Linked DNA regions of Homo sapiens. The protein of the gene in region 2 interacts with the protein of the main gene of each other region in a pairwise test. Each region holds a gene or a part of one and is shown on either strand. Other genes may lie near its edges.

Evidence for each region. Proteins that work in one complex are often made in the same cells at the same time.
Region 1: the proteins of TTC19 (region 2) and USP54 interact in binary tests that used the Homo sapiens proteins (3 or more experiments, as listed by UniProt).
Region 3: the proteins of TTC19 (region 2) and RBP1 interact in binary tests that used the Homo sapiens proteins (3 or more experiments, as listed by UniProt).

The regions. Positions count from the first base shown.
Region 1 is NC_000010.11:73,581,332-73,588,361, reverse strand, and holds part of USP54 (ubiquitin carboxyl-terminal hydrolase 54), read left to right. Parts: intron 1-7,030.
Region 2 is NC_000017.11:15,995,534-16,002,844, forward strand, and holds the start of TTC19 (tetratricopeptide repeat protein 19, mitochondrial isoform 1 precursor), read left to right. Parts: upstream 1-4,290; 5' UTR 4,291-4,315; coding exon 4,316-4,499; intron 4,500-4,584; coding exon 4,585-4,712; exon of another isoform or gene 4,713-4,849; intron 4,850-6,381; coding exon 6,382-6,492; intron 6,493-7,259; coding exon 7,260-7,298; intron 7,299-7,311. Other genes in the region: ZSWIM7 (zinc finger SWIM domain-containing protein 7), read right to left, coding at 3,986-4,061. UniProt on the Homo sapiens protein: Required for the preservation of the structural and functional integrity of mitochondrial respiratory complex III by allowing the physiological turnover of the Rieske protein UQCRFS1.
Region 3 is NC_000003.12:139,516,927-139,522,761, forward strand, and holds the end of RBP1 (retinol-binding protein 1), read right to left. Parts: intron 1,597-5,835; coding exon 1,495-1,596; intron 755-1,494; coding exon 701-754; 3' UTR 512-700; downstream 1-511. UniProt on the Homo sapiens protein: Cytoplasmic retinol-binding protein. Accepts retinol from the transport protein STRA6, and thereby contributes to retinol uptake, storage and retinoid homeostasis.

The sequences.
Region 1 (7,030 bases), on a different chromosome or scaffold from region 2:
ATCCCAGCCACTATGGATGGAGGCTGAGACAGGAGAATTGCTTGAGTCTGCGAGGCGGAGGTTGCGGTGAGCCAAGATCACGCCACTGTACTCCAGCCTGGGTGACTGCGAGACTCCGTCTCAAAAAACAAAAACAAAAACAAAAAACAACAACAACAAAGGATACATTTAAGAAAAAAAAAAGGATACACTTTTCCCCATTTTTTATATGGCCTTGGGATTTATGCTATCAATTATAGTTTAATCTCCTGAAATTTTTATAGTAGTTATATGTGTGTGTGTGTTTGCCTGTAAGAGAAAGAGAGATGGGGGAGAGATAATGCATATAGAGGATGGTCAGTCATCATAATCACAGTTACTCTTTATGGAATTCCTGTTTTGTACCTGGCCCTAAGTATTCTGCGTACATTATTTTGTTGCATCCTTTCAGCAGATCACATTTATTATAGGTAGTAAATGGCCTGAATGTGATGGAGCTAGGATTGGAATGTAGATTCATCTTATTCTTCATCATCATTATCCTCACCATAATCATCATCAAAACATTTATTCCACACTTACCACATATTAGGCACTGGGCTAATTATACGTATCTACATTATTTTATTTAATTCTTATAACAATCCTATGAGATAGATGTTATTATTAGTCACATTTTTTCTGATGAAGTACCTAAGAGTTAGTTCAATAACTTGGTCAATATGCCACAGCTGTTAGATGGTGGAGCTGAGACCTGTTCTATTCCACTAACTCTGTGTCCCCAAGTTGTATAATTCACATAATGTTCTCTAGGAATGGGACCCTTTGGATCTCCACTAAAAGCATGTTACCTCCCGAGGTTCTGCAATATTGTTGGCCCTGCAGAGGGTGCACTTTTTGTTTTTTTTGAGATGGAGTCTCGCTCTGTTGCCCAGGCTGGAGTGCAGTGGCGCAGTCTCGGCTCACTGCAAGCTCCGCCTCCCAGGTTCACGCCATTCTCCTGCCTCATCCTCCCGAGTAGCTGGGACCACAGGTGCTCGCCACCACACCCGGCTAATTTTTTTGTGTTTTTTAGTAGAGACGGGGTTTCACCGTGTTAGCCAGGATGGTCTCGATCTCCTGACCTTGTGATCTACTTGCCTCAGCCTCCCAAAGTGCTGGGATTACAGGAGTGAGCCACTGCACCCGGCCTGCAGAGGGTATACTTTTAACCACTATGTTCTTTCTACTACCATGCTGCTTCCTTTAGAAGTCAGTAAATTATACAACTTTAGATCTTTATAAGGAAGGGCTAAGTAGCCTGCAGCTGTCATTTCTTAGTTCTTATAATTTGTCAATTATAACAAAGTGAAACGTGCCTTTTTGTTTTCTTTCCAACTACTTTTTAACAAATTTTAGACAAATTTGTTATACATGACAGTTATCTAAGTTCTTGTGCAGGAAAAATAAGACTTTTTGTCCTTTATCAGCATACAATTCTTCTGTTGTACATGATGTAATAGTTTGAAGCTGCCAAAGTCCAGCCCTCAGGAAATTGTTTGAGTTGAGTAACTATTCGCTGGAGAGTTTAAGATAACCAGCTCATAAATCAACAAATAGCTTGGCCCTTTTTATGGTTGTAGATGCTTATCTCTTTCTATTTTCAAGCTTGAATCAGAAGCAAATATTGTTTCCATTTATATAGTCACTATTAGAAAAAGTTGTCAGCAGTATCTCAAGCTAGATAAGGCCATTTTGTGAGTTCTTTTCTTTAAGGAGAGTCAGAATTTATCAGGATGTTAGAATTGGTTGTTCTAGGCTAGGTACCTTCAAACAAAAAGTTTTCTCTTTCAATGAAACTGTCAGTGATTCAATGCCTATTATATTCAACCTCTGTGTGGAATTAGAAAGATGCCCTTAAGACAAAATGTAGTCCACGTACCCAAATAACTGTAACATGAGGGAGAATGTGAGTATTGTAATCCAAACCCCACCATGCACTGAGAGCACAGAGGAGGATGAAATAAATTGGGAGATTGGAAAGGTGAGAGGGTGAGAGAATGATCTGGGAAGGCTTTTCCTTGTAGGATAGTTAAGATTTTCAGCAAGAATAAATGGAGAGGAAAGGCATTCCAGAGAGAGGCAATATTAGAGTCAAGACAATGAGAAAGTAAAGGACAGGGTATATTTGTTATAAAGAAAGGAGTCTAGTGTACTTGGAGTGGAGGATGAGTGAGAGGCACATAATGGATGATCAATGAAATGTTTGATCAGTGAGTGAATGAGTAGATGAAGCTGGAAATGGTGGTAAGGTCCGGTGATTCTCAAACTTTACGCTGGTGCCAGACATATTTAATTCTATCTTATAATTAGGAATTAATTTTTTTTTTCTTTGAGCTGGAGTCTTGCTCTGTCACCAGGCTAGAGTGCAGTGGTGCGATCTTGGCTCACTGCAACCTCTGCCTCCCGGGTTCAAGATTCTCCTGCCTCAGCCTCCTGGGACTACAGGCACGCGCCACCACGCCCAGCTAATTTTTGTATTTTTAGTAGAGACGGGGTTTCACCATGTTGGCCAGGATGATCTTGATCTCTTGACCTCGTGATCTGCCCACCTCAGCCTCCTAAAATGCTGGGATTACAGGTGTGAGCCACTGTGCCTGGCCAGGAATTAATTTTATTGGCAGAATATGTGAATATCAAAAATATGCAGCATAAAAATCACAATCATGAACATGATTCAGTGATATGATTTGGATGTTTGTTCCCTCAAATCTAATGCTGAAATGTGATCCCCAATGTTGGGGCCTAGTGGAAGGTATTAGATCATGGGGGTGGATCCCTCATGAATAGCTCAGTGATGAGTGAGTTCTCACTCAGTTAATTCACACAAGATCTGGTTGTTTAAGAGAGCCTGAGACCTCTCCCTTGTCTCTCTCGCCATGTGACACCTGGGCTTCCCTTTGCGGTCTGTCATGATCGTAAGCTCCCTGAGGCCTTGCCAGAAGCTGAGCAGATGCTGGTGCCATGCTTCCCATACACAGTGCAGAACCATTAGCTGATTAACTTCTTTTCTTTATAAATTACCCAGCCTTGGGTATTTCTTTATAGCAGTGCAAACATGGCTTAACACTGTCAGTTAGGAAAAAAGGTGTTAAAATAGTTCCAATTGACTGCTTTGATTTTTTTCCCTCTTAATTTTGCTACTATTTGTTCAAGTTTCTGTAGTGCTAGCAGTAGACTAAGTAGGTAAGAAAAAATTATGGTAGAGAAACTTATGAAAAATCCATCTATTAATTTTCTTTCCTGTGAATTAGAAAAATACCATTGTTCTTTTCCAGCCAAAAGAATATCTCCCTCTAGGAGCCATTAAATATTTTGAAAAGGAGTGACATGGTGTGGAATGTGTTTTAGGAGTCAGGTGGTAGTGACATGTAGGATTAGAGGACTGGCAATGAGTCAGTAATGTGGTGCAGTGGTCCAGATGTGGTGAGGATCTGAACCTTAGTAGCAGCAGCAGTGAAAATAGAATGAAAGGAAATAGAGATCCACACCAGGCCCTCTGTTTCTAAATAGGAAATAGTTACCAATTATTAACCAGCTTTCATATTGTTAGGATATTACGGGTCTCAATGGTCGGTTATCTCTGGTCTCAAGTCCTTTCACTCTATTTTTAGGGAAAATGTGTTTAAACCCCTATTTTAAGGAAATGATAGTTTATAGATTATTTATAAATTATAGTTAATTTAGAAAATAGAAAAAAGGAAAAAAATCCATAATTTCATCATCCTAACAAGACCGCTATCATTTTACATTTACTTACCCCGATGTTGCTGAGTTTTAAACTTCTCTGTTAATTCATTCTGCGCACATTTAGCTCTGAGAAACAGGTTTCTGAACTAATAAAACACCCAATAATTGCCATACTGTGATATTAAACAGTAAACCAAGAGGTTTCACATATAACCCTCAGTGGATTGTAGGATCACAAACTACGTCAACGTCTCTTCTTTTTTTTTTGAGACAAAGTCTCACTCCATTGCCAGGCTGGAGTGCAGTGGCGTGATCTTGGCTCACTGCAACCTCCGACTCCCTGGTTCAAGCAATTCTCCTGCCTCAGCCTCCCGAGTAGCTGGGATTACAGGCACATGCCACCACGCCCGGCTAATTTTTGTATTTTTAGTACAGATGGGGTTTCACTATGTTGGCCAGACTGGTCTCGAGCTCCTGACCTCGTGATCTGTCCGCCTCGGCCTCCCAAAGTGTTGGCATTACAGGCGTGAGCCACTGTGCCCGTTCACATCTCTTCTTTTCCTATAAATCAATCTTGGTCCATCTACCTTTAGACATATAAATATTTATTTCCCAAATGCCTCAATCCCTTTTGGGCCCAAAGTTCCATCTTCTTCAGTGAATTATTTGCATAATTTAAAATGTTTTTTATTTTGAATTTATAGAAAAGTTGGAAAAATAGTTACCTCTAATGATACCATCTTATATAACCATAATACATTTATCAGAACCAGGAATTAATAGTATTGGTATAACACTATTAACTAAAGAGCTTTCCTGAATTTCACCAGTTTGCCTACCATTATTATTTTTCCTTTTTTATTTTCAGTTTTTTTAAATTGTAATTTATTTTTTTTTTATTTTTAAAGACAGGGTCTTGCTTTGTCACCCTGGCTGGAGTGCAGTGGCACAGTCATAGCTCACTACAGGCTTGAATTTCCAGGCTCAAAAAGTCCTCCTGCCTCACCCTTCTGAGTAGCTGGGACTACAGGCAAGCATTAGCCTGGCTAATTAAAAAAAATTTTTTTTGGCCAGGTGCAGTGGCTCACGCCTGTAATCCCAGCACTTTGGGAGGCTGAGGCGGGCGGATCACCCGAGGTCAGCAGTTTGAGACCAGCCTGGCCAACATAGTGAAACCCCATCTTTACTGAAAATACAAAAATTAGCTGGGCGTGGTGGCAGGCGCCTGTAATCCCAGCTACTCCAGAGGCTGAGGCAGGAGGATTGCTTGAACCCAGGTGACTGAGGTTGCAGTAAGCCAAGATCGCGCCATTTTACTCCAGCCTGGGTGACAAGTGAGAAACTTTGTTTCAAAAAAAAATTTTCTTTGTTTTGTAGAGACAGGGTTTCGCCATCTTGCACAAGCTGCATTGTTCTTTTTCTGTTCCAGGATCCTATCTGGAATCTCACATTGCATTTTAGGTGTTTTTCTTCCTTACTCTTCTGTATTCTGTAAAAGTTTCTTAGTCTTTCTTTGTCTTTTATAACCTTGACATTTTTGTAGAGTATTGATCAATATCAGTTTGAGGGCTATTTGTCAAATATTCCTTAATTTGGATTTGTCTGATATTTTTCTGATGATTGGACTGAGATTATGGTTTAGGCAAGAATACCACAGAAATAATTGTGTCCTTTTCAGTGCATCATATCATGGCATTCATGATGTCAATATGTATTATTACTGGTTATTTTGACCTTGATCACTTGGTTAAGGTAGTTTCTGCTGGGTTTCTCCATTGTGAAACTACTATATTTTCCTTTGTAGTTAATAAATGCCTTAGTGGAGATACTTTGATACTGTCATTTTTATTAATGTCATGGAGTTCTCTACACATGCAATTAATAGTGTCTCCTTAAAGACTTTATTGAACTTTAGTTACTGTGAAGTCAATTAGCTTAAAGAGTCCATCTCCTTGGATGGGCGCAGTGGTTCACGCCTGTGCCACCGCATGGTTCACAACTTTGGGAGGCCGAGGTGGGTGGATCACTTGAGGCCAGGAGTTCAAGACCAGCCTGGCCAACATGGCGAAACTCTGTCTCTACTAAAAGTACAAAAATAGCCAGGCATGGTGGCGCATGCCTGTAATCCCAGCTACTCGGGAGGCTGAGGTAGGAGAATTGCTTGAACCCGGGAGGTGGAGGTGGCTGTTGCAGTGAGCCAAGATCGCATCACTGCACTCCAGCCTGGGTGACAGAGCGAGACTCTGTCTCAAAAAAAAAAAAAAGTCCTTCTCCTTAGAAACTTCCCACACTTTACACCTGGTTTTATCAAAGGGTTCCCAGGCTTTGCACGAACAAATTCTATCTAGTCTTCATTGATTTCAGTTCCATTCTAGCTCTGCTCATAATGAATCTCTTATGCTAATAACCTGTAGCTCTCTGGGCCTCATTTACCCCTCTGTCTCTTAGGGCGCCAGGCTCCTCCTGGCCCAGTGTCCTTCCAGGCCTCATCTCCCTTTATGCACAAGCCAGTTCCTTTGAATGACTGCTTTGGGTTTTTTCCGAAACAGGCTGAGAGAAGCTGACTTTGTTGGTGAAGAATACAGTGGGGGATAATTAGGGTGGCTGCAGCTGGAGCCTGGTTTATTACTTTGGCCTGAGAAAAATGGTAGCACATTAAGCTGTACTGTGTATACTTGTGAAAGAATCATTCTCTGTATTTCACTAATACAGAGAAAGTGTTTTTTTCTAAAGGTCACCAGCTTCTAGAGGTATGTCTTTAATTCTGGCAACCTTAATCTGTAATGATCTTTTCAATTTAGCCCTGTTGACTGTGGAGTTACTTGCTGTGAGCACAAGAATCCAAAATCCAAATGTGGACCAAATATTATATTTAGATCTATTTAGTTCAAACAAATTTTATACAGTGAATAACATTAGATGTTTCTTTGATTAATAAAATACAAATTTATTAGTATTACTGAATTCAAAGTAGCTTTTTGAATTATGTATTTTCTCAAGTGACATATACTATAAAAGCCCCATTTATGTAATGTGGATGGGGCAGACTTAGATTCTCTGACACTTGAAGCTTATGCAATTCAGAGGGCCTCCTTTAAGGAAAATATTTTTTGAAACAGAAAATGAGATATTGGGCCTTGAGAATCTGTGCAAGAGAAAGAGTCCTGAAGCTTAAGTTTCAGTGGCTTGGTAAATCTGCCTCTGGATGTGAGGCACTGCAAAAAGGTTGAGACCCACTGTTTTCCATCATTTCATACATGGAAAGGTTTTTGGCTTACCCACAGGAGGCTAGTGTTTTCAGATTGGGAACAGTGGGACATAT
Region 2 (7,311 bases):
TTACAGGCATGAGCCACTGTGGCCGGCAAGACCCTGTCTCTTAAAAAAAAAAAAAAAAAAAAAAGACAGCAGAAATTCAACAGAAAATCTGGAAGATAAAGTTCAAGAAAGTTCCCAGGAAGTAGAGAAAATATAAAAGCAACACAGAAGCCACAGTAAGTCAACCAGAAGGACAACAGAGGACATCCAGTAACTTAATTACAGAAATACCGGAAAGAACAGAGAAAACAGATGGAGGGAATTCATCAATCAAATAATTCAAAATTCCCCACAGCTGAAGGACATGAATTTCTAGCTTGAAAGGGCCCACTGTGTGCCCACACTGTGAAGTGAAAAAAAAAAAACTTTATCAGAAGATTCAGAACACTGGTTATGAAGAAAACATAATTCAAACTTCCAGAGAAAAAAAAGGTCACATACAAAAATCAGGAGTAACACTAGAAGCTAAGATGTAGTGGAAAAATGTTTTCAGATGTCTGAAGAAATATTATTTCCAACAAATAATTCAATACCTAGACAAACAATCACTTAAGTGTAAGGGCAGAAAAAGAACTTTTTCAGCCGGGCGCGATGGTCAGCCTGACTAACATTTAGTATCTCTACTAAAAATAGAAAAACTATTAGCCGGGCATGGTGGCGCATGCCTGTAATCCCAGCTACTCGAGAGACTGAGGCAGGAGAATCCCTTGAACCCAGGAGGCAGAGGGTGCGGTGAGCAGAGATTGCACCATTGCACTCCAGCCTGGGCAACAAGAGCGAAACTCCGTCTCAAAAAAAACCCAAAAAAACAAAAAAACCCCACAACTTTTTCAGACATAAGCCTCAAACAGGGGCCGGTGTGGGGGCTCACAACTATAATCCCAGCACTTTGGGAGGCCAAGGCAGAAGGATCGCCTGAGCCCAGGAGTTCCAGAGTAGCCTGGGCAACAAAGGAAGACCCGTCTCTACAGAAAATAAAATAATCAGCTGGGCATGAGGTGTGATTGCGCAACTGTACTCTAGCCTGGGGAACAGAGTGAGACCCGGTCTCAAAAAATAGAAAAGAAAGCCTCAAAAGGTACATCTCATGCCCCCTTCTTCAGGAAGCTGGCAGAGTCTGTGTGCCATAATATAAGGTAGTAAGCCTGGGCAACACAGTGAAACCCCGTCTCTACAAACAATACAAAAACTAGCTGGGCATGGTGGTGCACACCTGTGGTACCAGTTACTCAGGAGGCTGAGACAAGAGGATCTCTTGAGCCTGGGAGGTTGAGGGAGCAGTGACCTATGATTGTGCCACTGCACTCCAGCCTGGGTGACAGAGCAAGACCTTGTCTCGAAAAAAAAAAAAAAAATTTTACATGGGCCGGGTGCGGTGGCTCATGCCTGTAATCCTGGCACTTTGGGAAGCCAAGGCAGGTGGACCTCTTGAGCTCCAGACTTCGAGTCCAGCCTAGGCAACATAGTGAGACCTTGTCTCTACAAAAAATACAAAAAACTAGCCAGCTGTGGTATTGTGTGCCTGCAGTCCCAGATACTCACTTGGGAGGCTGAGGTGGGAGGATCATCTGAGCCTAGGAGGTCAAAGCTACAGTGAGCTTTGATCATGCTATTGCACATCAGCCTGGGTGACAGACTGTCTCAAAAAAAAAAAAAAGAGGTAGTAAACTGAGAAAAAGAAAACTGTAGGATATACTAAACATAGGACCCAACAAAGATACAGAGAATTCCCAGATAATAATGGTTAAGAGAGATCTCAGCAAACAGCCGAGAGATCAGCCAGTCCATATTAAGCAAGTCCGAAGGCTCTAGAGATGTCTTCAGGAAGGTGAAACTGATAACATACTTCGTTCATCTGAACATCTTGAGGGGAGATTGAGAACACTAGTAAAGGATGTGAGGTTAAAGTAGGAATAAATATGTAAAAAACTAAATAAGCACATAAACAAAACCAAGATAGTTGTAACTCCAGGGAAATCCAAAAGTTACAAAGAAAACAAAAAGTAATCATAGCTTCCTACATGGTTCCACTGTGACTAGTTTATATATCATCATACAAATAAAACTTGGAATCTTGATCTAAAAAAATTACCACTGAAGAATGGGGGTTAGGAAGGGTGCATAACTATATATTAATAGAAAAAAGATTTTGAAAAAGACAGAAAACAGGGCTTCTGAAAATAAACATGAATCAACAGCATTGGTTCCTGTGTCTGAACCATGGGTGTCAGGGGCAATGATTATGCCCCCTTCAGGACTGTCAATGTGTCTTGTGAACCTTCTTGTTGGAGGGAAAAAACCCAAAACTGGCTGGGCACGGTGGCTCACGCCTGTAATCCCAGCATTTTGGGAGGCTGAGGTGTCCGTATCACAAGGTCAGGAGTTTGAGACCAGCCTGGCCAATATGGTGAAACCCCGTCTCTTCTAAAAATACACAAATTAGCCGGGTGTGGTGGCATGCGCCTGTAGTCACAGCTACTTGGGAGGCTGAGGCAGGAGAATCACTTGAACTTGGGAAGCGGAGGTTGCACTGAGCTGAGATCGCCCATTGCACTCCAGCCTGGGAGACAGAGCAAGACTCTGTCTAAAAAAAAAAAACAAACCAACCCAAACTACTGTCAGTGTATGGATTAACCTATTCAGACACAGAACAGTTCTGGCGATTATTGTTTAAAGTGACAGCATTCCAAACCCTCAGGCCATCAAATCTGAGAGCCCAGAACAATTGTATAAGCTAACATCAGTTGGCTTTTTTCCCATCCTTTTTGGAAACAAGTATGTTTGAATACTTGGCTGCACTAATCTTTCAAGCACATATACTTAAGTCTCCTTAATTTTGACTGAGATGAGGAAACAAAGTTGGCTTATTTTTCTCAGTTCCTTAAAAACAGTAACTCAAGATAAACCCTTTCAAAATGCAGTACAGTACTTTTAAAACAAAAGCCATCCAAGTTGAATAAGCGATGGCAGTTTGGGGGCCTGATATGGCTGTTATTTATAAGGTGGCCATTTTTACATCCTAAGAGTAGTTCATTAGTCAATGCATTTTGAGTATATCAAATTTGATTTGATCTTATCCTAGCATACTCTGAACACATCTTGAGATCAACCCTTCTCAAGTGATTTTGGTGAGCATAGCCAAAGAGTACCCTCTGCTGGTCAGAAAAAAAATGGTGCTTTCACAATACCCAGATTTACTCCAACGATTGCATATGCATTTAGGTTTTGTGGCTCTTAAAATGCTTTTTTTTTTTTTTTTGAGATGGAATTTCGCTCTTGTTGCCCAGGCTGGAGTGCAATGGCGCGATCTCGGCTCACGGCAACCTCCGCCTCCCGGGTTCAAGCGATTCTCCTGCCTCAGCCTCCTGAGTAGCTGGAATTACAGGCGCCCGCCACCACGCCCAGCTAATTTTTTGTATTTTTAGTAGAGACGAAGTTTCACCATGTTGGCCAGGCTGGTCTCGAACTCCTGACCTTAGGTAATCCAACTGCCTCGGCCTCCCAAAGTGCTGGGATTACGGGAGTGAGCCACTGCGCTGGGCCTACTTTTTAAAGTGTATGGAAGCATTAACTTTAATGTTAACATCAGAATTTGAGAAAAAGAAGTTTAATAATTCAAAATTTCGTGTAAAATAATCAAGAACTCCACGTTTCTATCACTCACTGTAGGCTCCCGTCCCTTCCACCCCCGGGCGGGGACCCCTCCCAGCGACCCGGCCAGCTCTCAGCACTTCGGTCCCCACTGGCCTACTCGCTCCGACGGAGGGGCTCCTGCAACTGCGCTGTACCGTAAATATTTGCTGAATCGATTTGACTTTTACTTGTTCCAATTTCGCTTTTTTGTTGTTTTGTTTTTTTGTCTTTTTACGAACAAGAGGTTTAGAGAACCACATGGAAAAAAGGCAGGGCCAGGCCCGGACACCCCGCCTCCTGCCTCCCGGCCCGGCGGTGCCCGGATGCCCCGCCCGCGCCCATGGCGCAGCCACACACGACCTCGGTCCCGTACTTCGCGCGCTCTCCTGCACCGCCGCCGCCATCTCGCTCAGGAGCTCCTCCACAACCGCCGGCAACACTACGGCCATCGCGCCGCAGGACACGCCCTCCACGACCGGCGGACCGCCGCGACGCTCCAGCTGACTGCGCCTACCTGTGGAGGATCCTGACCCCCCGCCGGGGCAGGGCGAGACGGAGTGACGTCGGGGCGCGTCATCGCGCGTGCGGACGCAGGGATGTCCTGCTCAGTCGTCAGGGCCCGGCCAATCCGGAGGGCGCTCGGCGCGTGGTCGGGGGCCAGGAGCGCGTCTGGCCTGCAGTGCGCAGAGGACGCGGCGGGAGCATGTTCCGGCTCCTGAGCTGGAGCCTGGGCCGAGGCTTCCTGCGGGCCGCGGGGCGGCGGTGCCGGGGCTGCTCCGCGCGCCTGCTCCCGGGGCTGGCAGGAGGTCCGGGGCCCGAGGTGCAGGTGCCGCCATCCCGAGTCGCGCCGCACGGCCGGGGCCCAGGCCTGCTGCCGCTGCTGGCAGGTGAGGGGCGCGGGCCGGGCGGGGCCGGCCGGGCGGGGACAGGGGCGCGGGCCGGGCCCGATGACCTCAGAGCCCCTTCCCGCAGCGCTCGCCTGGTTCTCGAGGCCCGCTGCGGCAGAGGAGGAGGAGCAGCAGGGAGCCGACGGGGCCGCTGCCGAGGACGGGGCGGACGAGGCCGAGGCAGAGATCATCCAGCTGCTGAAGCGAGCCAAGGTGAGGCGGCTCCGGGCCCTGCGCCCGGCCGAGCGCGGTAGCCTTTGTGAGCGGGGTCTTGGCGTTGCTGCGCATTACTCTCTCCGCCTCGCCGAAGAGTGGATGGAGGCTCCGCGGGTAAAATTGCCGAGAATGAGGTGGGTCATCCGAGAGGGGATTGGAATCCATCCAGGCTTTTCCGACTCTAAGGCCTGCAGTAAAACCTCTGCAGTGTCAAGTGCAAATGGAGATGGCGCCCTAGGCATCACGCTTTATGCAAACGAAATATCGGGAACGTTTTGTAGTGGTTTTATCAATTAACCAGCCTATCTGAAATGACATAATTTCGCACGTATATAGCGGCCTGAAAATGGCAACTTAGTGTTGGTTATGCGGTTCGGTTCTCCTCCTGAATTCTTCCTTTTCTCCACATCCTTTTCTATTTTTTTTTCCTCCTCTTTTCCCAAGTTATCTCATCTCTTCCATTGAGCTAAATACCTACTCGATGCCAACAACGTCCAAATTTGTATTTCCATTCTGTAGTGTGCTACTGACATGCCATTTGCACTTTAGGACCATACCTACCTCTCAGATTTAACATGCCCAAAACTAAACGATCTTTAATGCCTCCTCAACATACGCTTTCGCCATCTCTTTACTACCATCAGTTTTTCAGCCTAAAAACCTCATAGTCATTCTTAAAACTTGTGGTACCTTACCATTGCCTTCCAATACACTTACAGTCCAGCAACAAGTCCTGTTGCCAACAAATGCAAAATATTTCTCAAATCTTTCCCCTTTTGTCTATCTCCCTTGCTGTCACCCTAGTGCAAACCATCATTGCCACCAACTATGCTCCAGTAGTCTTTCCTGGCCTCCTGGCCTCTTGCAATCTATTCTCCATGCAGAAACCAAAGCGACCAAAAAAAAAAAGAGTAAATTGGATTATGTCATCTCCTTGTCAGAAAGCTCTGAATGGCTACCCACTGCATTTATGATAAAATACAAACTCCTTGCCTTGGCTTGCAACACCCCACATGATCTAAACCAGCATATACCTTGCCCACCCATTTGGCAGTAATCCTCTGGCTCACCATCCTCCCTTCACATCTATTTCTTTGCATTTCTTCCTCAAAACCATTCTCTTCAGCTTGTAGGGACTTCACTCATTCTCTACCCTCTGTTTGAGTCATTGTTCTCCCCAGGTCCTTATTTGGTTGACTCATTCTCATCCTTACTACCTCAGTTTAGCTGTCACTTCCTTGGAAGGCTTCCCTAAGTCCTATTTAGAGGAGACCCCTTATCATTCCTTTCTGTCATCTTTATAGCTCTTATCATTAGTTGTAATTAAGCTTACTTGTCCTATATGGTCACCTCCAGCCTGCAAGAAATTAGAAAGAGGATGGAGGACAAGCAGCTTCCTTATAAAATATGTTGTAAGATCACATTCCTTCTGCCTGTGTCTCTTGGCCAAAACTTCATCAGATGGCCACACCTAGCTGCAAGGGAGGCTGACCTCCCTGTCATCTCTGTAGACAATGCTTTGTACATAGTAGGAATTCAGTAAATGTCTGATGAATGAGTTAGCTTCCTTCTATCAGTTGGGATGTACAGTTGCATACACTTCTGTCTCTTAGCATATGCATCTACTATATGTTTCATTTTCTATTATTTTGTCTTCCCTTTTCAGTTGAGCATTATGAAAGATGAGCCAGAAGAGGCTGAGTTAATTTTGCATGACGCTCTTCGTCTCGCCTATCAGACTGATAACAAGAAGGCCATCACTTACACTTATGATTTGGTAACTCTTATAACCAGTCTGAACCACTGATGAGGAAGGTTGGATGGGAGGGAAGGGTAGTTAGTTCTTCTGATTTATATTCCTGACTTTCACGATGTTCTAAAACTCCTTTTCTTTTTACTGAGTTTTCTTTTGGCTTCAGTTTCATTTTTTGTTTTGTTTTGTTTTTTTGAGATGGAGCCTCACTCTGTTGCCCAGGCTGCAGTGCAGTGGCACAATCTTGGCTCACTGCAGCCTCCGCCTCATGAGTTCAGACGATTCTTTTGCCTCACCCTCCCGAGTAGCTGGATTACAGGCATGCATCACTATGCCTGGCTAAATTTTGTATTGTAGTAGAGACGAGGTTTCACCATATTGGCCAGGCTGGTCTCGAACTCCTGATCTCAGGTGATCCACCTGCCTTGGCCTCCCAAAGTGCTGAGATTTCAGGCATGAGCCACCACGCCCGGCCACAGCTTCAGTTTTTTTACCCTTGGGGTGACATAAGACCTCTCAATTCCAGACCAAAAAAAACCAGTATCATTAGCATGTTTTTTTAATGATGAGTGGACCTAGATTTGGTTTGTTAACAACAAAGTATGTGCAAGTATTTAATTCTCACATGATTGCTGTCCTGTGCTTCTTCTTGCAGATTAATTGGTGATGTGCTTTTCATTTTCAACTATTTTTTAAATTTTGAGGGTGAAAGCAAAAGGGAATTTTAAAGTTTTGAAATAAGTAGGAACACAGTATTCTAAACTGAAAAACAATTTGTAATTTGCTTTCAGATGGCCAACTTAGCATTTATACGGGGTCAGCTTGAAAATGTAAGTAAATTGC
Region 3 (5,835 bases), on a different chromosome or scaffold from region 2:
AGAAAGGGCTGATACCAGCCCGTAGATGGGGTGGATGGTCTGAGGGTGGTGACATCTCATGACATCTCTGAAATTAAATCCAATAGGTAATTACTTATGTTTAAGTAATTTTATGCTTTGGGCTTAAAATTCTGTCCAGTTCCATTTCATTCACAAATAATGATGAAGCATCTCCTTGGTGTACTGTGCAGTTATATAGACATTCTCTGTTGGTTGGATCTCTAGGGTGGAAGGTATCTTCTCCTGCTTTTGTGGCACTCACTATACTTTGGCCACAATTAGATACATAACATGGTAGCTACTTGATACACAAATGATTGAATGTCAGGCCACTCTCCCACCTCCCATTCTAGACCCAAGCCTGTGCCTCTGGAGAGAAACACGGTGCAATTTCAGGACATGTGGCTGAATTTATCCACTCTGCCCATGGGTGGCACTAGGAGAAGCTGGCCTCAGAAGCCCTGGAGAAAAAGTGAGCACAGTGGGCAGTGAAACTTCCCCCAAACAGACGTTTTGAACACAGATCACTTTATTGGCATGGCTTTGTTTTAAGAAAAGGAAAAGTGACAAAGCCAAGAGACAGACTCTGCTAACAGATGCCTGGGGGTGGCTGGACATTTTTGCCTCATGCTGTGCAAAGAGGGGGATCCTGGCCCACACATCCTGCTGATTCCTTGGGACAAGGTTGTCTGCCTGGGCCTCACTGCACCTTCTTGAATACTTGCTTGCAGACCACACCTTCCACTCTCATCTCCTGAAACAAAAGCAGATGTTGGTCATTGGCCAGAGCAGAGTCACACTTACGGCAAGAACTCTAAAAATACTCATTGGCTGTTATTTTTCCCCAAGAGTTGGTTTAAGTAACCAATTGTTTGGAAAGACAGTTAAACTGTATAGTGGAGTGCTCTGCAGCACCCTACAGACAGAGCTGGCTGAGAGGAATGGATGTGGCTCAGAGCTGACCAACAGGACCCCTTGACGCTTCCCCTCCCGAATCACCTCCCGCTGACCCAGATTGAGATCATATCTTAGAGAAGCTTAGAGAATCCTTCTTGGCTTTGGCCTATACAATTTGGCATGGTGAATATATACATCATTTGGGAGCAAATGTTTGTTCTGTCACTTTCTAGTTGTGCAATTTGGACATGTAATCTAATCTTTCAGAGCCCCCAGGTCCTCATCTCTAAAATAAGAGCCATATTCCTATTCTGAGAGAATAGAGTTATAGAATGCAAAAGGGCTTAGCTCATTGCTGATGCTTAATGGATATAACTCCTCACCTCTTCCCTCTGATTAGATGATTGGGTCAGCCTAGACCTTGAAAATACATTGCTTGGTTTTTAAAGTCACCCAGGCATCTTTTCCAGGCCCTTGGAAGAGAAGCTTTAGAACAGAACCAAGGCCCATCCATGGTGCCTTTTTCCAAGGTCCATCTGGACCTCAACAATGACCAGGGCCTCTGGGGACCCGGCCTGACCCAGCCCAGGAACCTACCAGGTGCAGCTCATCACCCTCGATCCACTGGGTCCAGCCACGCCCCTCCTTCTCACCCTTCTGCACACACTGGAGCTTGTCTCCGTCCCAGCTCACTGTTGTCTGCCAAGAAAGAGACACATTTGTCAATCCTGAGCAAGCGGGGAGCTCCTGGAGGCTGGGGGAGGGGGCAGCTCCCAAACTTGATAATCTGGGATGTGCTCACGTCAATTTCATTGTAGAAAATCTGCAGCCTAATACTCCCTGTCCATCACATGCTTTTATTAAAGTGTGTAAATCAGTTTTAAAATTTATGAAAACCTTCATAAATTTTATTTAAAAGGGTAATTAGGAGGGAAAAAGTCATTGGAGTGGGGCTGTCATTGCAAGCACTGAGAATGGGGCTAAGGTGGAGAGGAGGGCCTGAGGGCTGAGCACAGCTGGGTGTGAGGGGTGAAGGATGTTTTCCAGAATCTTATGGTGAGGGGCAGACTTCTCAGAGTGTACCCTGACCATCCCCAGACACTTCATTCATCCATTCATTGTTTCAACCTATGCTAAGTCCTGGGATACCAAAAAGACCCCACCCCTGCCCTCAAAGCGCTCTTCATCTCACAGGGAGAATGACCTTAGATATAAATAACCCAGTGAAGGTACAAATGGCAGCTGTTAGCTGCCTACCTGCTCTGCCAGGCACTCTCTGTGCTGTCTCTGAAGCCTCATGCCTATCCACGTGAGCAGGGATTAGCATCTCCTTTTCACAGATCAGCTTAAGGGACTTGCCAAGTTCACCCATGTTGTTCAGTAGAAGAACCAGGTCTGAACACAGATCTGTGGGGCTCTGAAGGTCCCCACCCCAATGGACTAAATTGCTTCTTGAAGCGTTCATGGTCACCAGGGTTATAGGCCAGAGGCTGTGGGAGCCCAGGTGAGAGTCCAGGGAGTGGGATTCACTAGGGCTGGGCTCTAAGGAGAGAAGAATGGAGCTGAAGGAGAGGAAAGGAGGCGCTGTGGAGAAGAGCTCCCAGTAGCCCACCACCCGGTGAAGGCCTGAGGTGGGACAGCGGGAAGTACACTTAGGAGCTCATCAGGAGGGCACCAGGGAACTGAGGAGGAAGGCGAGGAAAATCCCACAGCCCAGCCTGGGCTTGGCAGAGCACAGATGAGCACTGTGACACCCTCTACACCCCACATTTGAGCCCCCACATCTTCCCTGAGCACTGTGAGCCCTGCCATGTGCTGGGCATGCTGAAGGGAAGACAGGCAGGAGGAGGAGGCCCAGCCTGTGTCCTGGGGAGATTTCAGTCTTAGTGGAGCAGAAAAGGCCCACCTAGCAACACGGGGCTGAAAAAAGTGTTGGACTTCAGAGGCAAGGTGGTCCTGTCATCCCAGCATAGCCATGAGTGTGCCCTAGACTGGGACACATGTCGCAGATGTGGGCACACAGAAAGTGCAGTGGGCATCACTCATATTTGGGGCTGCCCACCTTCTTTTGAATAGCCGTCCCATATGGGGCAGTTCTGTGTTATGAGCCTGGCCTCCCCACAGTAGTGCTCAGCACTCTGTTTGCCCCTTGCTCACTGTGTGGCTCTCAGCAAATCCTTCCCTTTTCAGGGCCCCTGTGCTCTCATCTGTCACATGGGGACATTAACTCAGGCCTTGAATGTAGAGAGCTAAGGTTCTAGGATCCTTGTGTTCCTTGCCATGCTCAGCTGAGTCAGGACAGTCAGCAACAGCCGAATAAAGGATTTGGGAGAGGAGACTTATGGGAGATGGGTGTGGCGTTAGTGGGGCCACTCCCTGCAGGAGGACCTCCCCACCCCAGGCCTCCCACCTGGGCCTGCTGATCACTACTGCCCCCTGCTGTTGGGGTGAAGCCTGCAATGCGACACATGCACGAGGGAGGCAGGTGGAGCCACATGTGCTCCCCCAGCTTTGCATAGGAGTAAGTCTGCTCTCTGCTCCAGAGAGAAATGGGGCATAAAAGGACTTGGGGGGCAGATCCTCTCTCTGATCCAGAAATTCACTCAGGGCACAGTCTAGTCCCAGGCTAGAGAGAACGCAAAACATAGTGTGGTTAATGTGTGGTGAGACATGTCATGGGTAAAGACTACTCATGACCTCATGCCATAAATAAGACAGGACACCCATTCACTTATCCGTGCTCCTTCCATCCCAGGCCTGTAGAGGGAAGTGGGGACCCAGAAATCAGTCCTCAGCTTCAAGAAGCTCATAAGAACACTTGGTTTCCTCATCAACTGATCTTCTCTTCATGTGTTTATCCAGAAGGCTACTGTGCATATGAAGGGTTCCGGATTCACTCAGAGGCACAAGAGACAATTGCTTGTTTTCAGCTATGACATACATTTTTGCCTCTTCTGGAAATATTAGTCAGGAAGTATAGTCATAGTCTTTGTATTGGAAAATTAAAAAAAAAAACACCGAAGAAGAAAATGGTAATAAAAATGATACATGTAGTTTTGTTTCTTTAGAGATGATTACTCTAGGCCAGGCGTGGTGGCTCATACCTGTAATCCTAGCACTTTAGGAGGCTGAGGCAGGTGGATCACCTGGGGTCAGGAGTTCGAGACCAGCCTGATCAACATGGTAAAACCCCGTCTCTACTTCTTTACTGAAAATACAAAATTAGCTGGGCGTGGTGGTGCATGCCTGTAATTCCAGCTACTTGGGAGGCTAAGGCAGGAGAATTGCTTGAACCCGGGAGGTGGAGGTTGCAGTGAGCTGAGATAATGTCATCGCATTCCAGCCTGGACAACAAGAGCAAAATTCCGTCTTAAAAAAAAAAAAAAAAGAGATAATTGCTCTAACATTGTATATGTTACAATGTATGGTAAATTTCCATCCACTCTTTTTTTTTTATATCTATCTATCTATCTACATGTTTCTGTTTTATACAAAATTAGGATTGCATCATTTATGGTTTCATATCCTCATTTCTTCATTTAATTGAAGCAACTTCCCATTTCAACAAATATTCTCCATAAGCATTATTTTAATTGCTACGTAATATTCTAGGAAGTAGCTACATAGTGTGTGTGTGGTCCACCACAAAATGAAAATGAGGGATTCTTTGCTCAAAATCATTAAGATTTTTAAGCTGGTGACAGCAGAGCATTAAACCAAGTGAGGGGCTTTCTGAGCCTGGGGCCCTGATGGACTGCCTTTGTCACAGGCCCACAAAACAGTCCCTGATAGTATTTGATTGTACATACATACTGTTATTTAGCCAATTACCTATTTTGGACATTTAAGTTATTTATTTATAATTCTGTGCTACTATAAATAAGACTTCTTTGTATACATAGTTTTGAACACATTGTTCCCTTAGAAGAAATTTCCAGAGGAGGAATTGTTGCATCAAAGAGTGTGCATATTTGTAAAGCTTTTGATGAGTATTGCCAACTTTATCTCCAGAAAGCTCACACCTATTTACCTTCCAACACCAGGGTCAGAGAATGACCATGAGAGAGATGTTTATTAATGGTAAAGCATGCTTTTGCTCCTGGGGCTACTGTGTTACCATTTCCAGATCGCTGGCATCTTTTAACAGGGGCCATCTGGATATAAACAATAATAATACCTTAGCCCAAAAGAATGACAGATGGCAGAATTTCAGGCAGCTTGACAGATTGAGGGATAGAGAGAGCAGAAGTCTGTTGGGGTGTAGAGGAGCCTTTCTGAGAGCCCTACAAACCAGGCTTCTTAAAGGGAAGGATCCCTATCACATGCATACTGCATCAGTCTCCCAGAAAGCCTTTCTTAACCCCAAGCTTCTGTTGACTCTGATACTGGACAAAGCAGAGATTATTTTCTTTGACCTCAGGTGATCCACCTGCCTTGGCCTCCTAAAGTGCTAGGAGTTGGACAAAGCAGAGATTATTCTTGTCTGTATTGGATGTAGAGGGGTGGCTGAGCTCAGAGAGGTTCCATGACTTTCTCTGGTCACCTAGTAAATGAGAGAAAGAATCTGGGCTGGAGCACGGGCTTTGCATGACTTGGTGCCCACTTGTTTCCCAGTCTAGGGCAGGGCACCTGCCAGGTGCCCACGAGATGGTGGCTAAAATCATTGGGGGCTGCAGAAAAACACATGGACATTGTGCTAAGACTCCGAGCAGACTCCTGGAGGAACACCCTTAAGTTCATTCCAACCATTGTGGGGGTATGGGTGCTGGGAGTCAGAAAGAGGTCTTAAAGATTTCTGCCTGTAGAGGTCCCCACAGAGAAGTGCCCAGGCTGTCATGGCCTCAAAGGAGTTTCTAAAAATGGGAGGGGCATTCTAGGCAGAGTGAAAAAGGATGAAAGGGGTAGGAGGTGATGAGGGAGAAATGACAACAAGCCAGT